4 linked regions of the Homo sapiens genome follow. The protein of the gene in region 3 purifies or fractionates together with the protein of the main gene of each other region. This does not show direct contact. Each region holds a gene or a part of one and is shown on either strand. Other genes may lie near its edges.

Region 1 (3,500 bases), on a different chromosome or scaffold from region 3:
CTACAAATTTTTTTTTAATTGGCTGGGTGTGGTGGTGCATGCCTATAGTCTTAAGCTGCTTGGGAGGCTGAGGTGGGAGGATCACTTGAGCCCAGAAGATCGAGGCTGCAGGGAGCTATCATCACACCACTGCACTTCAACCTGGGCGACTCAGCAAGAGCAAGACCCTGTCTGTAAAAAAAAAAAAAAAGAGAGAGAGAGAGTGAATTCAAAGGCCAGGTGGCGTGGCTCACACCTGTAATCCCAGCACTTTGGGAGGCCGAGGTGGATGGATCACTTGAGGTCAGGAGTTTGAGAGCCTGGCCAATATGGTGAAACCCCATCTCTACTAAAAATACAAAAAATTAGCCAGGTGTGGTGGCACATGCCTGTAATCCCAGTTACTCAGGAGGCTGAGGCAGGAGAATAGCTTGAACTGAGGAGGCAAAGGTTGCAGTGAACCAATATCATGCCACTGCACTCCAGCCTGGGCAACACAGCAAGAATCGGTCTCAAAAAAAAAAAAAAAAAAAAAAAAAAAGAATTCAGCCCTGGAAACCTGGAACTACATCTAAGTCAATTCTAGGAAACAGAACTGTAGTATCTATCTATTTAAATATGGGCAGCAGTGCCGTATATGGGGAAAAAAATAAAGACACCAGCCACTTTTAGGTTTAAAACCTGCTTCTGTCGCCTACGACAAGCTCAGTGGCCATGGAAAACTTACTGAACCTCAGTTGCAGTAAGGATGAAAGAAGGTAAGATATATAAAGTGCCTTTCACAAAATAGGCACTCAATAAATAGCAGAAGTTTCCATCATCACTATCATCACCAGCATTATTGTTTGGATCACAATCGCCACCTTTTTCATGTTCACATTGCATTTAAAAACAATTTGGCAATAAAATAGCCGTTATTATGTGCCAGATACTATACAGAATGAAAACTGGGAGGAAAGTCCATTAAGGAGATGGTTAATGAAAGTTCAGTCACTCAGTGGAAAATCAGGTATCCATTGAGGGTTTTTTGTTTTGTTTTTGTTGTTGTTGTTTTGTTTTTGTTTTTTGAGACAAGGTCTGGCTCTATGGCCCAGGCTGGAGTGCAGTGGTGCAATCTCAGCTGACTGCAACCTCCACCTCCCCGGCTCAAGCAATTCTCCTGCCTCAGCCTCCTGAGTTGCTGGGACTACAGGCATCTGTCATCACACCCTGCTGATTTTTGTATTTTTGTAGAGACAGTGTCTCCATATGTTGCCCAGGCTGGCCTCAAACTCCTGGGCTCAAGTGAGTGATCTTCCTGCCTTGAACTCCCAAAATGCCTTGAACTCCCAAAATGGGACTACAGGCATGAGCCTGGGTGCCTGGCTGGGATTTTTTTTTTTTTAAATAGACTTTTTTTTTTTTTTTTAACAGCAGTTTTAGGCTCATAGCAAAACTTCCTGGAAAGGGCAGAGTTCCCACATACCCCTTCCCCCACATGCACAGCCTCCCCCGCCATCAACATCCCATACCAGAGTGGTGCATTTGATACAAAGAACAAACCTACACTGACACATCATCATCACTCAGACTGCACGGTTTACTCAGAGATTATTATTATTGTTAACAACATGAAAAATGTTAAATGCTTATAATATGTATAAAATTATAGGTAAAACATGACTGCGTAGACTGCATATGGGCAAGTTTAGAAAGAACACACAAGAAACCAAAGAGTTATTTTGTTAAGTTAGAATTATGGATAAATTTAAGAATCTATAGCCAAAATAATTCTGGCAAAAAAAAAAAAATCTAGTTTCCAAACTCTCACTAATGCTATATTACCTTTACAATAAAAAAGGGTGAGAGGGAGCAGGAAGAGGGCTGACTCTTCAATTCTGGTTTATTCCAAGAAGAAATGGAACACATGGAATGAAAATGATTTTTTTTCTTTAACCCTAACGAAGAAAAAATAGAATTTCTAATTGTGGAATGTTACTATTTACTTTTCTTTCCAAACGAGGATATTAAAAAATTAGTCAGGATTCTTCTGGTCAGTCCCAAGGACACTTAGGCTTTAATTCATAAGTATCAAGCAGGCTTTGTAAAACACAGACTAAACACAGAACACCTCCCCATTACATCACATACATCAATGCAATGGTCCACCTAAAACACAAAGCACTTAAACTGGTTCAAAGAACACAGCCAACAGCAGTTTCCACAAGCTGTGCTTTGGGCTGGGTCCTCTTCTATTAGGTTCTATTAGATCCTTCTTTTTCCTCACAGCTCTAGGAGTAACCAGTAGATTCCTTCTGTGGCTGTCCTACCATCTACTGTATTTCTATCCTACCATTAGCTAACATTTCACACTATATTGAACTACTAAAGTACCTATGTATCTAGTATCAAGGACATCTAGTTTCTCCACACCTACACACTTATAAACACACACATTTACTTTTTTGTACTACCCACTCTTGTCCTTGCACTTCCCGCAAAAAATTCACTCGACCCTTAAAGACCTCAATTTTTCCTTTGCTTAGATTAGAAAATATCAATAGGCTGGGCGTGGTGGCTGACGCCTGTAATCCCAACACTTTGGGAGGCCGAGGCGGGAGGGTTGCCTGAGTCCAGGAGTTAGAGACCAGCCTGGGCAACATGGCAAACCACCATCTCTACCCCCCTCCAAAAAAAAACAAAAATTAGCCAGGCATGGTGGTGTGTGCCTGTAATCCCAGCTACTCAGGAGGCTGAGGCAGGAGAATCGTTTGAACCCAGAAGGCGGAGGTTACAGTGAGCCAAGATCATGCCACTGCACTCCAGCCTGGGTGACAGAGCAAGGCTCTGTCTCAAAAAATAAAAATAAAAAATAAAAAAACAAGAATGACAGAGGCAGAGAAGTAGAAAGGGGGTGCTGGGACAAACTCAAGCGATTCTTGAATACCATGGGCGTGTGTGTCTGCTCCTTTTAGCAACTATAAGCTCCAGGGCACAGCCCATCTTATATGTCTGTCATTTTCTGTCCCAATACTCAACACCATTCTGGGCATGAAGTCATTACTCAATAAAAACTAGGTGGATTTTTTTTTTTTTTCAAAGAGGACAACTTTGGAGAACGTCCAAAAAAAGAACCACAGGAATGATCAAAGGGATGAATAAAAGGTCCTAGTGGAAAGGTCAAAAGGAATTTAGGCTGTTTAGCTTGGAGAAAAGGCAACTGAAGAACTAAAGAGTAACTCAGAATAACAACACTTGAGCTGGAAGAAATCTCAGAGATATTCTGGTCCAACCTTTTCACTTCACAGATGAGGAAACTAAGACAAAGGGAGAGGTTGCAATTTGGTAAAGGTAATTTTAGGACAACTTTTTTTTTTTTTTTTAAGTTTCATTTCATACAGTGAGGAGAAAACTTTCCCAAGCAACAGGAACATAAATAGCAACAAAAATAGCAATTGCAACTTACTGAAGATCTCCTGTATGTCTAGTACCTACCTACATGCTTGGTGTTTTACTTATGTTATCTCACAACAATCTTATAA
Region 2 (3,500 bases), on a different chromosome or scaffold from region 3:
ACATCTTCACCAGCCTTGCCAGGAGGGCCAGCTGGACCACGAGCACCTGCAGGACCCTAAGAAAATGGGAGACCCATCATTTCACTAAGGTTATATTCATAAACTTCCTGGAAAAAAACTTATCACAAAGGTGGAAAAATGTACTCACAGTTTGACCAGGTTCACCAGGCTCACCAGCAGGTCCTTGGAAACCTTGAGGGCCCTAAAAGAAAAAAAGAATGTCATACTCCAAGCCTTTATTTCTTAATTCTCTGTCTTTTTACATAAGAGGCATTACAAGCTTTCAGTACTTACTGGGGCTCCAGCTGCACCAGGTGGGCCTCTAGGTCCCATTAAGCCCTGTAAAGAAAGCAGATATATCAACAGTTAGCACTGATAAGTTGTCATGGTGTTGGCTGGGGTCAGATATGACCAACTTAGCAGTGCCATTGTTGTGGTTTGATTCCATAGTTTTTATTCCTCCCAAGGAAGAATTTAAGGACTCAAACTTCCTGCACTAGTTCTCTCCCTTTGCTTTTCCTTTTCTCCCAATCCTTATCAACAGAAATCAATGAGAATTAGACGGGGCAGATAGGTTCCTTAAAGTTGTGCACAATTGGGCATATTGAGATTGTTCTGATGCAATGAAGTGAATCAGTCTTTGCAGAAGTGCAGAATATACAATTGTCTTCTATACAGCAGATGAAGCATGTCCATTTGGATATCTTTGATCATATGTCATCTTCCTATGTCATATTTAGCTAAGAAATTGGTATTTTTATTGCCACAAAGGACATAAATTGAAAAGAATCAAAAGTCCTTCTTAATGATTAGAGAGAAGTTTGTTATAACCTTATCGCTCCTCTAAGGGTTATTGGTGACTGATGAAAATGTCAAACAAAAGTGGATGTAATGAGGGGTGAAGGAAAAATAAAACATTATTGAAACAGCCTTCTGGAAGAGTCTATTATATGATATTATTGTTGAAAATATGGCCCAAATGATGGAAGATTGTTTTCCCCTTTGTTGTTTCCATAGCACAAAAGTAGGGTAAAACAGGCTGTTAATAGTTTGTAAGCTAAATACACTTTCTTGACTCCTCTTTGCAGTAATCAGTGCCTGTGTAAGCTCATCCGTAGGGTCTGTTCCTCATAATGCTGAAAATATTTCATGTACCAGTCTCAAGTAATTTGTTCATGACATCAGCTGTGGGGACTCTGCAGTCAAACCTACCTTACTGTATTAATGCCTAGAGTGAAATAACATGGATTTTATCTAAAATGTATGTCATTTTAATTATAAGAATTATTCATTTGGTTTTAGAAATTGCTCTGACATTAAAAGAAACTGTCACTTTTCCATCACAATAGCTTTTTAGGCATACATTAAAAAATAATTTTCTTTGACATCATGAATTTCTAATTATATTTATTTTTTCATGTATTTGCAACAATTTCATTTACATAAAATGTAGTGTATTTCATGGAGGCTGTGATTACTCATTAATTCAGAGAAGAACCCTGTGGGGTTTTATAGTTATTGATTTTCCAACATGGAAATTATTTTAATACTTTATTGCTGCCTATCTTCCCTATTTGTGAAACAGATATCTGTTGATTACATATGTCTGTGCATGTGTGTGGATGTGCAAGCTTAAATTATATTTCACTGATATTTCAAAGTAAAATACTCTGCTTTATGCCAAGACAGATGTTCCGAAAACAGGGGTATCTGAAATCCATATTAATTTTCCCAGCTTAGTGGGCTTTTTAAAAATGACATTTAGTAGCTCTTTACTTTCCGCCCCCTTGCTTCTTCTTGAGATGTAGGTACTGCTTTAAAACTGACTAATGTCCAGCATTAGCTGAAACAGCTAATTTCAAAAATCCAATATAAACAAAGCCAAAAGAAACACTCTACTTTTTCATTTCAGATATGAACATTTTAAACTACCAGAAAAAATTAGGGAATTAGAAGTCGTCAATTAAAGGTACATTATTTCTCAAGTGGGAGTTTTAATTTACAGAAAATATTATCTCACCCTTAGAGTATATTAGCTTACTGTGGGCCATTAGCTCCAGCAGAACATCTTCTTTTGAAGATAGAGCACTAAGTGCACTGCCCAGGTAAAATTTACATTTTAAAGACCTTGTTGACTTTGGGCAGATAAATACCTTTGTTTTGAAACAATTAATTAAAATCACTAAATTGCGTGTGTGTGTATACATTAAATTCTGTAGTGCTTAATCAACCTAACACTTTGACTTCTGGCAGTTTTCCCCTCTATTTCATATATGCTAGTATACATTTTGCATGCTCGTATTAGCATTTTTCCCTTCAAACTTCTCTCTAATGCTTGTTAGAAGCTTCATTTGTTAATAGTCATCATCATCATCATCATCATATAGGGAATGTTTCTAAGCGGTGCTCCACTGATAGGGTATGGTGCTGAATATTTGTACTGAGTGACATAAATGCTAGATTTTTACTCATACTCTCTTCTATATAGATTTACAATCAATAGACTAAAAAAGGATTTTTTTGGTCAAAATTCAGAAAAAGAAACATTTCCTATATTGTTAACTCCTTGAGGAAGGATCAGAATCTGTCATATTCCTTGTAATTTCCCCAGTTCCTAATACAGTTTAGGGCCCATTGAAGGCATCTGATTAATATCTGTTGACTAAATGAGTGGTTTATTCAAGGACTAGGTACATAAACCATGATGTAAGCAAATATTAGACATCTTGCCTGGCATCTAGTTCTAGTTATGTCATTAGTTACCTGGATGACTTTGAGAAAAGGGCTTAAACTCTCCCATTTTAAAATGAGTTAGCTGGACTAGATAGAACTTGTTGATCCTTTCCAACAAGTTCAGAGAACTTAATAAATAGTTCTATGCCTCTAAGTGTTGCTTAAAATTCTAAGCAATGTTAAAGAATATTAAAAAATTAATCAGAGTGATTACTGTTTTAAATTAAATTGATTTGCCCAAGTTATGGTTACTATGTCCAAAGATTATTTCTTGGACATAAGTATATGATCTATCTTAATGAGGATCATATAATCAAAAAGATCATATAATCATAAAAGATCAATTAATCTTTCTTTTGTAAAGAAAAGTGAACTCCTTAACTTATGTTTTCATAAATTTGAAAACAAAAAGAGTTGTTTTTATATAATCTAAGTATTGAGTGTTAACTTAGGTAGCTAAATAAATGGCGTGGTAAAATGTGACATAAAATGAATGATTTATTTAGCAATTTTTTTGGCTAAGATAAACAGATAAGCATACCATTGGTCCAGGGCCAAGTCCAACTCCTTTTCCATCATACTGAGCAGCAAAGTTCTAGAGAAGTAAAAAAAAAAAATTATATATATATATAAAATATTTTTAGTTACTAGTCATGTAGTTCATTTTCTCATTCTACTTGTAAATATTTTTCTGTTGTTATTTAAAAGAGGGCAATGTTTTTGATATAATTATTAGTTTAAAATTCTATATTGAACTAAATTCCTAA
Region 3 (3,500 bases):
CACGCTCTGACACAAAGCCAGCAAAGGCCATGCCCTCCAGCACCTTCATCAGGAAATCGTCCTCTACCAGCCCACGCTGGCCCAGGAAGGCTGCCTGGATGACAGAAGGAGGTCGGTCCCTCAGGGGTCTCCACCATGCGCTTATCTCCTACCCCACGCCCAGCCACCAGGCACCCCACCTTATGGAAGCGGATGACAGGCTCCGGGTGGATGCGCACGACGTGCAGGCACCAGCGATAGCCCTGCAGCAGCTGAGCGAACAGCCGCAGGAAGACCGCGCGCAGCTCCTTGTCCTGGGAGAAGAGCTGAGTGCAGGTGAGAGCCAGTCCTGCCAATCCCCACCCCAGGCTGCCCAGGAGCTTCTCCACACCCCAACCCACCCCAAGCTGCCCCGCTCCCATCCTTCTGCCCCTCCCACCATTCTGCACTCAGGGCCACCAGCTCCTCTGAAACTGTCTGGACAAGGCACTCCTGGCTCAGCACCCTCAAGGGCTCCTGTGATCAGACGCCAAGTTCCAGCCCCTTGCTGGGCCCCTGCCGCCTCGCCTGCACCACTCACGACCACCACTCCTAACTGCTGGCAGCTGCTTTGCTCCCAGGCTCCTGCTTCTGCTACTGGAGCCGGGGCCAGCCTGGGGGTGGGGCCCTGTGTGTCAGTGGCAGCAGACCTGAGTGGGGGCAGCCTAAGTGCCTGGGGTCCCCATGCAGGAGCAGCAACGACCCCCACCTGCATCTTCAGGGAGGAGGTGGATGTCGTGGGCGGAGGGAAGGCGAGGTCAGCCAACTCCAGCTCCGGGTCCAGGACCTGCCAGCACAGAATGGAGCAGGCAGCTGCACGCTGGCCCCGGCTCTAGGCTCCCCGTGCTGCCAGGTAGCCACATCCCAAAGGCCCCCAAGGCTCCCGCTTGCCCATGGTGCCCCTCACCATGCTCAGCACACTGTGCGTCTGACTCTGCAGTGGCTCTGGCAAGGGTGGAATGTGCACACACTCAGGAATGGTGACCGTCCCTCCATCCAGATCAGCAACAATCACATCGAGCTGCGGACCAAGGGAGCCGGCAGTCAGGGACCTGCAGGCCTGGGCCGTGAGGTGGACACAAAGCACAGCCCTTACCAGCTCCTGGGTCTCTGCCTGGAAGGCCGCGTTGACCCCAATGATGAAGGGCGTGGGTGTGCTGAGGACCTCCAGCAGCTGAGCCGGCAGGATGGGCACATAGGTGAAGCTGTGCAGGCCCCAGAGGATGCAGTGAGCCAGGGGACGCGGCTGGGCAAAGGGGCCAGGAGAAGGGGCTGGGAGGGCCGGGCAGGGGTCACCTGTATCTGAGAGGAAACAGCAGTGCCAGGAGGCCCCTACAGGCATCGGCGAGCCGCTGGTAGCTCCGGGACAGGAAGAGAACCTTGTGCTCCGTGAGGGCGGCACAGAACAAAGACAGCACGTTGGTGATGCCTAAAGGAAGAAGAGAAGCTTGGAGAGGACCCTGGGCCCCCACCCAGGCAGAGTGAGAACCCACATCCCTAACTACCAGTCCCCGAGGGGAAGCCATGCGGGGGTGGGACAGACAGGCTCACCTAGCTGGCGGAAGAGCAGGGCCACGCTGCAGCGGCTGACGGGCAGCGAGTCGGCCAGTGGAGTCTGGATGACCTGCCGGTCACCAGCCCCCAAAGAGATCGTCCTCTGCAGCAAAAAAAGGATCGGGGCTCAGTAGTTTGGCCAGAGCCAGCCCAGAGTCAGCCCAGAGCTCTGTGTCCCCAGGCAGACCCTGGTGTACTGACAGACCCGAGGTGGGACTGGCTGGGATGGGCAACATGGCAAGAGGGAAACGCCATGCCCTGCCTCTGTTGTCCCAAGCAGCTGCAGAGAAAACTCAGGACAGGAGTGGCTGCTTTTGACTTGGGGGTAGGGATGGGGCCTAGGTGGGCGGAAGAAACAAAGAATCCATACCGCTCCTTCCTCAACAGAGTCCAGCTGCACAGGACAGACGGGCAGAAAGACACGGTTAGACACTCCAACACACCCAGGCACAGGGCAGGGAGCAGACAAACAAGCTGACATCAACATCCAGAGACAGGCACACACCATCAAAGGAGTGGACAGAGAGGCTGAACGACACAGGCCCAGAGCACAGGTGCGAGGGCCAGGTAAGCAGGCCAGGACTGTTGGGGGCAATGGTGGCACGAGGACGCAAGAGGGAGCATCCAAGGCCTCCAGCTGTGTGTGGCTCTGGCTGGGCTCCAAATACCTACCAGGGCCCCAGCAGGAGGGCCTGTGGCTGTGCAGATACCAGCTGCCTCCAAAACTCACCTGCGAGCCCCCAGCCAGGGGCACAGTGCACGTCAGCAGGTTCCCAATCACGTTCTCCAGGCACACATTCAGGCCCTCCACGTGGATGGCATAGATGAGGCCAAGGCTGTTCTGCAATGACCAGAGCGGGGAGTGGTGGGACAGCCGATGGAAGCACCCTCGTCGTGCCTCGCCGCCCCGGCTGCCGGCCTCACCCTGAACACCTCCGTGTGGTCGAGTCGCGACACCAGTACCAGCGTCTTCGGTGCAAACAGCTGGGCAGATGGGGCAGGTGCTGTGGGAGACAGGTGGGTCTGGCCTCCCTCATCCCCCTCTTCCTCCCTCTCTGTGGCATCCTCCACGCGCGTCGTTTCCTGCTGGGGGTCAGGGGGAGACGGGGGCAGGGGGAGTTGGCCACGGCCCAAGGATGCAGCTTCATTCATGCTGTACCCAGAGGCCCCAAGCTGACCTGTGAAGGCTCCGCTGGCTCCCAGAAGGTCAAGCAGGCGCAGTAGTGGCGCTCGGAGTTGATGTCGGTGAGGACAGCAACAAAGAAGGTCGGTGGATTCCTCTCGGGACACAGCTGCCACCCGCTGGGCTGGCAAAACTGCAGGGAAGGCTCAGCAGTCAGCTCCTCCCCCTACACCTGTGGCAGGAACCAGCCCACCCGCCCCAGCATCTGCACCACCAGGCCTGGAGGCTCCAACACACACAGGCAGCTCCTTGCTTGGAGACCCTGGGGACACGTGGCCTCCTGGGCCTCAGTCTCTCCGGGTGAAGGGAGTAACAGCCTCTGACCTCCCCACCTGGGGCAAGGACCAGGAGATGGGAGAACAGTCCCCACCATCATGAGTGAGTGACAACATGACACAGTGACATGAGCACCGCACAGGCCGCCGGCCAAGCCGGTCAAACCCCCCGACAGAGGCTCTGCTGTCTTGTCCCTAGCCCAGCGGGGGGCCGGGCACTGTGGAGGCCCCTCAGTCAGGGACAAGGGCAGGGCTGTGCCCACCTGCCCTCCCCACCTGCCAGCACCGTCTCAGCACGCCCCCAACTCACCAGCTCGATGCCCTGGGGGAATGGGTTGTCCTCCCAGTCCTTCTCTGGGAAGCGCTGCAGAATCTGGCCCTGGCCTTCCCCACTCCCTGAGGACAAGAACAGGGGGTCAGAGCACCCAACCCGCCCCCCACCCACCAGGAGGCTTGAGGATCCCAGGGTG
Region 4 (4,300 bases), on a different chromosome or scaffold from region 3:
GGAATACCCCCAAGTGCCTGCCTCAGAGCAGATCCTCAAAAAGGGCAGAATGAATACATGCTTAATTGCCAGTGAGTTCCAGGTAGGCAGAACTGAGCCTGCTCATTTTCTCTATCCCAGTGCTGAACGTGAAAAAGTAGCTTAATAAACATTCACAAATTGAATGAATACTTGGGAAGGGAGAAGAGAGCCCTGGAAAGCTAAGGTGGTGACATGTGGGTTGGATCATACAAGAGTAGAATTTGCCTGGCAGAGAGCAAGGGCCAGATACTGGAGGCAGCAGAGATAAGGAATGAGGAGGGTTCCTTGTAGCAGGAGAGTAGCATGACTGAATCTAGAAAGATGGGCTGGGGTGGGCATGAGACCACATGAGCCAAGCAGAAGTTTGAATTTAATCCTCGGAAAAGGAACCTTTTCACAATAGTCATGGCTGAGGGTGGGGAAGGGGAGAACCAAGAATTTTCCTCCAGAACCTTTTTTAAGACAAGGGAAGCAACAAAGTTGTGTGGAATGTGAAGAAAGGTGGATGTCTAGGGCAACTCCCAAGTGCCTGGCACCATAAATATGGATAGTAGTAGAAGGGAACCTACATTTGTTGAAGAGCTGCTTAGGTGCTGTACTGCAAACTTGTCCCCTCTGCAAGGGTAGGTATAATTCCCCCTTTCAAAGATGAAAATACAGAAGTTAACACGCTCAAGGCCATTACAGCTAATGAGGGGTTGAGGTTTAAATTCATTAAGTAAATCTGATAAGCATAACATCTTCAACTTTTCCACTGCCTCTAACCTGTATCTTTTGTTCAAAATCAAACATGTGTTGAGCATCTACCCTAGACTAGAGGTTGGAGATAAAATAGAGAACAAAACCGATGACAGATTACACTCCAGAACAGTGTTTTTTCACATTCTAGTCATATAACGGACTAGTAAGCTACGATCAGCATTTTGTGTACATGTACACAATAATAGAATAAAATCAGCAATTGTATCACAGAGCATCATATATAATGTAAAAGGTATTTCTCTGTGAGGCAAGGTCAAAGACGTTTGAAAAACATTAGTGAAGGAGACAGCATTCAAATAATTACACAAATGGACATATGGTTACCAACCATTCATTATTAAGGGAAAGGTACCATGGCACCTGGTGCCATGGCAGCATCTAACAGGTAACCAATTTTAGTCTGGGGAGAGAGGAAGAGGGAAGAGATCCTGGAAACTCAGAGATAGTAGGTAAAAGTGAGGGGAAAGGAGTTTTCCGGACAGAATAGCACATGCAAATGGGCTGAGGTTTCGAGATTTTTTTTTGAGATGGAGTTTTGCTCTTGTTGCCCAGGCTGGAGTGCAATGGCACGATCTCGGCTCACTGCCACCTCCACCTCCCAGGTTCAAGCGATTCTCCTGCCTCAGCCTCCCGAGAAGCTGGGATTACAGGTGCCCGCCACCACACCCAGCTAATTTTTCTATTTTTAGTAGAGACAGGATTTCACCATGTTGGCCAGGCTGGTCTCCAACTCCTGACCTCAGGTGATACCCCACCTTGGTCTCCCAAAGTGCTGGGATTACAGGCATGAGCCACCACGCCCGGCCCAAGACGTATTTTTAAAAGGTATGGATGAATGAGCACAGATGGTCAGGGCGTTGAAGGCAGGATTGAGAAATTTGTACTAAATCCTAAAAGCAGACCATTGAAGGGTTTTAATCAAGGGAGTGTCTCACTCTATTGTCCAAGCTGGAGTGCAGTGGCACGATCTTGGCTCACTGCAACCTCCACCGCCCGAATCCAAGTGATTCTTCTGCCTCAGCCTCCCGTGTAGCTGGGATTACAGGCCCGCGCCACCACACCGGGCTAATTTTTGTATTTTTAGTAGAGACGGGGTTTCACCATGTTGAACAGGCTGGTCTCGAGCTCCAACCTCAGGTGACCCGCCCACCTCGGCCTCCCAAAGTGCGGGTATTACAGGCGTGAGCCAAGATTTGTGGTTTGAAAAATCACTTAAAGGGGCCTGCTGAGCCTGTCTCGGGCACAATATAATAATCCGGTAGGAGTCCGGGCACGGTGGTTTACGCCTGTAATCCCAGCACTCTGGGAGGAAGGCAGGTGGATCACGAGGTCAGGAGTTCAAGACCAGCCTGGCCAAGATGGTGAAACCCCGTCTCTACTACAAATACAAAAAAAATTAGCCGGGCGTGGTGGCGGGCGCTTATAATCCCAGCTACTCGGGAGGCTGAGGAAGAGAACTGCTTGAACCCGGAAGGGGGAGGTTGCAGTGAGCCCAGATCGCGCCACTGCACTCCAGCCTCGGCGACAGAGCGAGACTCCGTCTCAAAAATAAATAGGTAAGTAAATAAATAATAATCGGTGGGAAATAACAAGGCCTTAAAGGGCTTTTTGGCCTACTACGGTATCTGGGCTCTGTCACGACATTCCAGTTCTTTCAACAGATTGGTGTGATAGAAGAGCCGAATGTTACTGAATAAATTGGACCCAAAGAATCTTGCAAAATTTGTCTCCCTGCAACTTTCTCTCATCTCTCCTGTTCCCAGGTCCACCCCCGGGAAGCTTCCAGACCCGGCGCCCCGGCCCTGCCCCGCTCTCACACGAACACGTCCCCGTCCACGTCCCCTGCAGCCAGTAGGTCACGGGCCGGATGGAACGCCAGCCCACTAGCCGGAGCTTCCAGCACGATGTCTTCCGGAGTGTCCCGGATCCGGGTTGGGGCTTCCATGGAGTCTGGGTCCTCCTCGTCGCTCCCATCCTCAGCGGGCCTCTCCTCACAAGTGCGGTCCATGCTGAGAAGGACTGCGAGCCGCGCCGCCGCAGGGTAGTCAGCCTCGGAACCACCCACACTGCGGGAGGAGTAGCCTGGCACTCCGCTTCCGCCTCGGGGGGCGGGGCCGGAAGTGTCTCCGGGACGTTCTTCCTCTTACAGGAGAGGTGGGTGGGCCGCTGCTGGTGCGGGTGGAGCGGAGCGAAGAGACCGCATCTGGGAGATCGGCTACTTCCTTGTCCTGCTGTGACCCCGTTTGGGCTAGGTAGACGGTGCGACCGTCAATTCCCTCCCTAGTCACGTCACGTAAAGTTGAGAACTGCGTGTAAATCTTTCCTCTCCTACTTCATCCAGACAGGCTTAATGCCCTTGGGATAGGAGAGAGGGACGCTAGTCCTTCGTGGCTTGGTGAAACCCAAGATCAAGTCAAGCGACAGCCTGGGCTGTCAGGAAGCCGCAAAATCCCACGCTGCGCGATGACATACGGGAGTCTGGGACAGCAGGCAGCTCAAGCAGCTGGTGTCCACGCCCCTAACGTCTTTGTGGCCAGTTTGCTGTGCCAGTTCCTACAATTTGTCTACAGAAACTCAATGGGCTGGACAAGCAGTGCTCAGTTACCAAGAATTTTTTTTTCTTTTTTGTTTTGCTTTGTTTTGAGACAGGGTCTTGCGCTGTCGCGCAGGCTGGAGTGCAGTGGCACGATCACCGCTCGGCTCAAGCGATCCTCCGAGTAGCTGGAACTACAGGCACGCGGCACCACGCCTGGCTAATTTTTATTTATTTATTGAGACGGAGTCTCGCCCTGGCTGGAGTGCAATGGTGCGATCTCGGCTCACTGCAACCTCCGTCTCCCGGGTTCAAGAGATTTTCCTGCCTCAGCCTACCGAGTAGATGGGACTAGAGGCGCATGCCACCACGCCCAGCTAATTTTTTGTATCTTTAGTAGAAACAGGGTTTCACCATGTTGGCCAGGCTGGTCTCAAACTCCTGACCTCGTGATCCGCCCGCCTTGGCCTCCCAAAGTGCTGGGACTACAGGCGTGAGCCACCGCACCTGGCCAATTTTTGTATATTTTGTAGAAACGAGGACTCAGTATGTTGCCCAGGCTGGCCTTGAACTCTTGACGTGTCTTCCCACCTCAGCCTCCCAAAGTGCTAGGATTATAGGCGTGAGCCACGGCGCCCAGCCCCTGAATTTCTTTTTTTAAATCAAGGTCTTGCTCTGTCACCCAGGCTCAGAATGCAGTGGTGTGATCATAGCTCACTACAGCCTTGAACTCTTCGGTTCGATCCTCCTGCATAGCTATAGACTCATGAACTCCTGGCCTCAAGAGACTCTCCTGCTTTGGCCTCCCAAAGCACTGAGACTGTGGGCATGAGCCATCGAGCCTGGCCTCAGAAACTGAATTTCAAACCCACAATCTCCAGGTCTTGCTTTTAGTGACTCTCCAGATGTCTTCACCTGTGCCATGTCTCTGTGACCATTTTTAATAATTGGGACTGCCTACCTACATCCATAGAACCATGGTGT

What was found. The genes of interacting proteins can lie anywhere in the genome.
Region 1: the proteins of SBF1 (region 3) and UQCC1 purify together in Homo sapiens (affinity purification with mass spectrometry, with the first as the bait; one large-scale study listed by BioGRID). This does not show direct contact.
Region 2: the proteins of SBF1 (region 3) and COL1A2 purify together in Homo sapiens (affinity purification with mass spectrometry; 2 studies listed by BioGRID and IntAct, with this or other methods). This does not show direct contact.
Region 4: the proteins of SBF1 (region 3) and WDR55 purify together in Homo sapiens (affinity purification with mass spectrometry; 2 studies listed by BioGRID and IntAct, with this or other methods). This does not show direct contact.

Annotation. Positions count from the first base shown.
Region 1 is NC_000020.11:35,384,474-35,387,973, forward strand, and holds part of UQCC1 (ubiquinol-cytochrome c reductase complex assembly factor 1), read right to left. Parts: intron 1-3,500. UniProt on the Homo sapiens protein: Required for the assembly of the ubiquinol-cytochrome c reductase complex (mitochondrial respiratory chain complex III or cytochrome b-c1 complex). Involved in cytochrome b translation and/or stability.
Region 2 is NC_000007.14:94,401,395-94,404,894, reverse strand, and holds part of COL1A2 (collagen alpha-2(I) chain precursor), read right to left. Parts: intron 3,329-3,500; coding exon 3,275-3,328; intron 340-3,274; coding exon 295-339; intron 203-294; coding exon 149-202; intron 57-148; coding exon 3-56; intron 1-2. UniProt on the Homo sapiens protein: Type I collagen is a member of group I collagen (fibrillar forming collagen).
Region 3 is NC_000022.11:50,465,036-50,468,535, forward strand, and holds part of SBF1 (myotubularin-related protein 5), read right to left. Parts: intron 3,427-3,500; coding exon 3,341-3,426; intron 2,889-3,340; coding exon 2,751-2,888; intron 2,659-2,750; coding exon of another isoform or gene 2,656-2,658; coding exon 2,497-2,655; intron 2,414-2,496; coding exon 2,303-2,413; intron 1,676-2,302; coding exon 1,570-1,675; intron 1,448-1,569; coding exon 1,315-1,447; intron 1,224-1,314; coding exon 1,115-1,223; intron 1,040-1,114; coding exon 926-1,039; intron 806-925; coding exon 728-805; intron 294-727; coding exon 180-293; intron 95-179; coding exon 1-94. UniProt on the Homo sapiens protein: Acts as an adapter for the phosphatase MTMR2 to regulate MTMR2 catalytic activity and subcellular location. Promotes the exchange of GDP to GTP, converting inactive GDP-bound Rab proteins into their active GTP-bound form.
Region 4 is NC_000005.10:140,663,404-140,667,703, reverse strand, and holds the start of WDR55 (WD repeat-containing protein 55), read right to left. Parts: upstream 2,801-4,300; 5' UTR 2,792-2,800; coding exon 2,601-2,791; exon of another isoform or gene 2,547-2,600; intron 2,340-2,546; exon of another isoform or gene 2,267-2,339; intron 661-2,266; exon of another isoform or gene 591-660; intron 1-590. UniProt on the Homo sapiens protein: Nucleolar protein that acts as a modulator of rRNA synthesis. Plays a central role during organogenesis.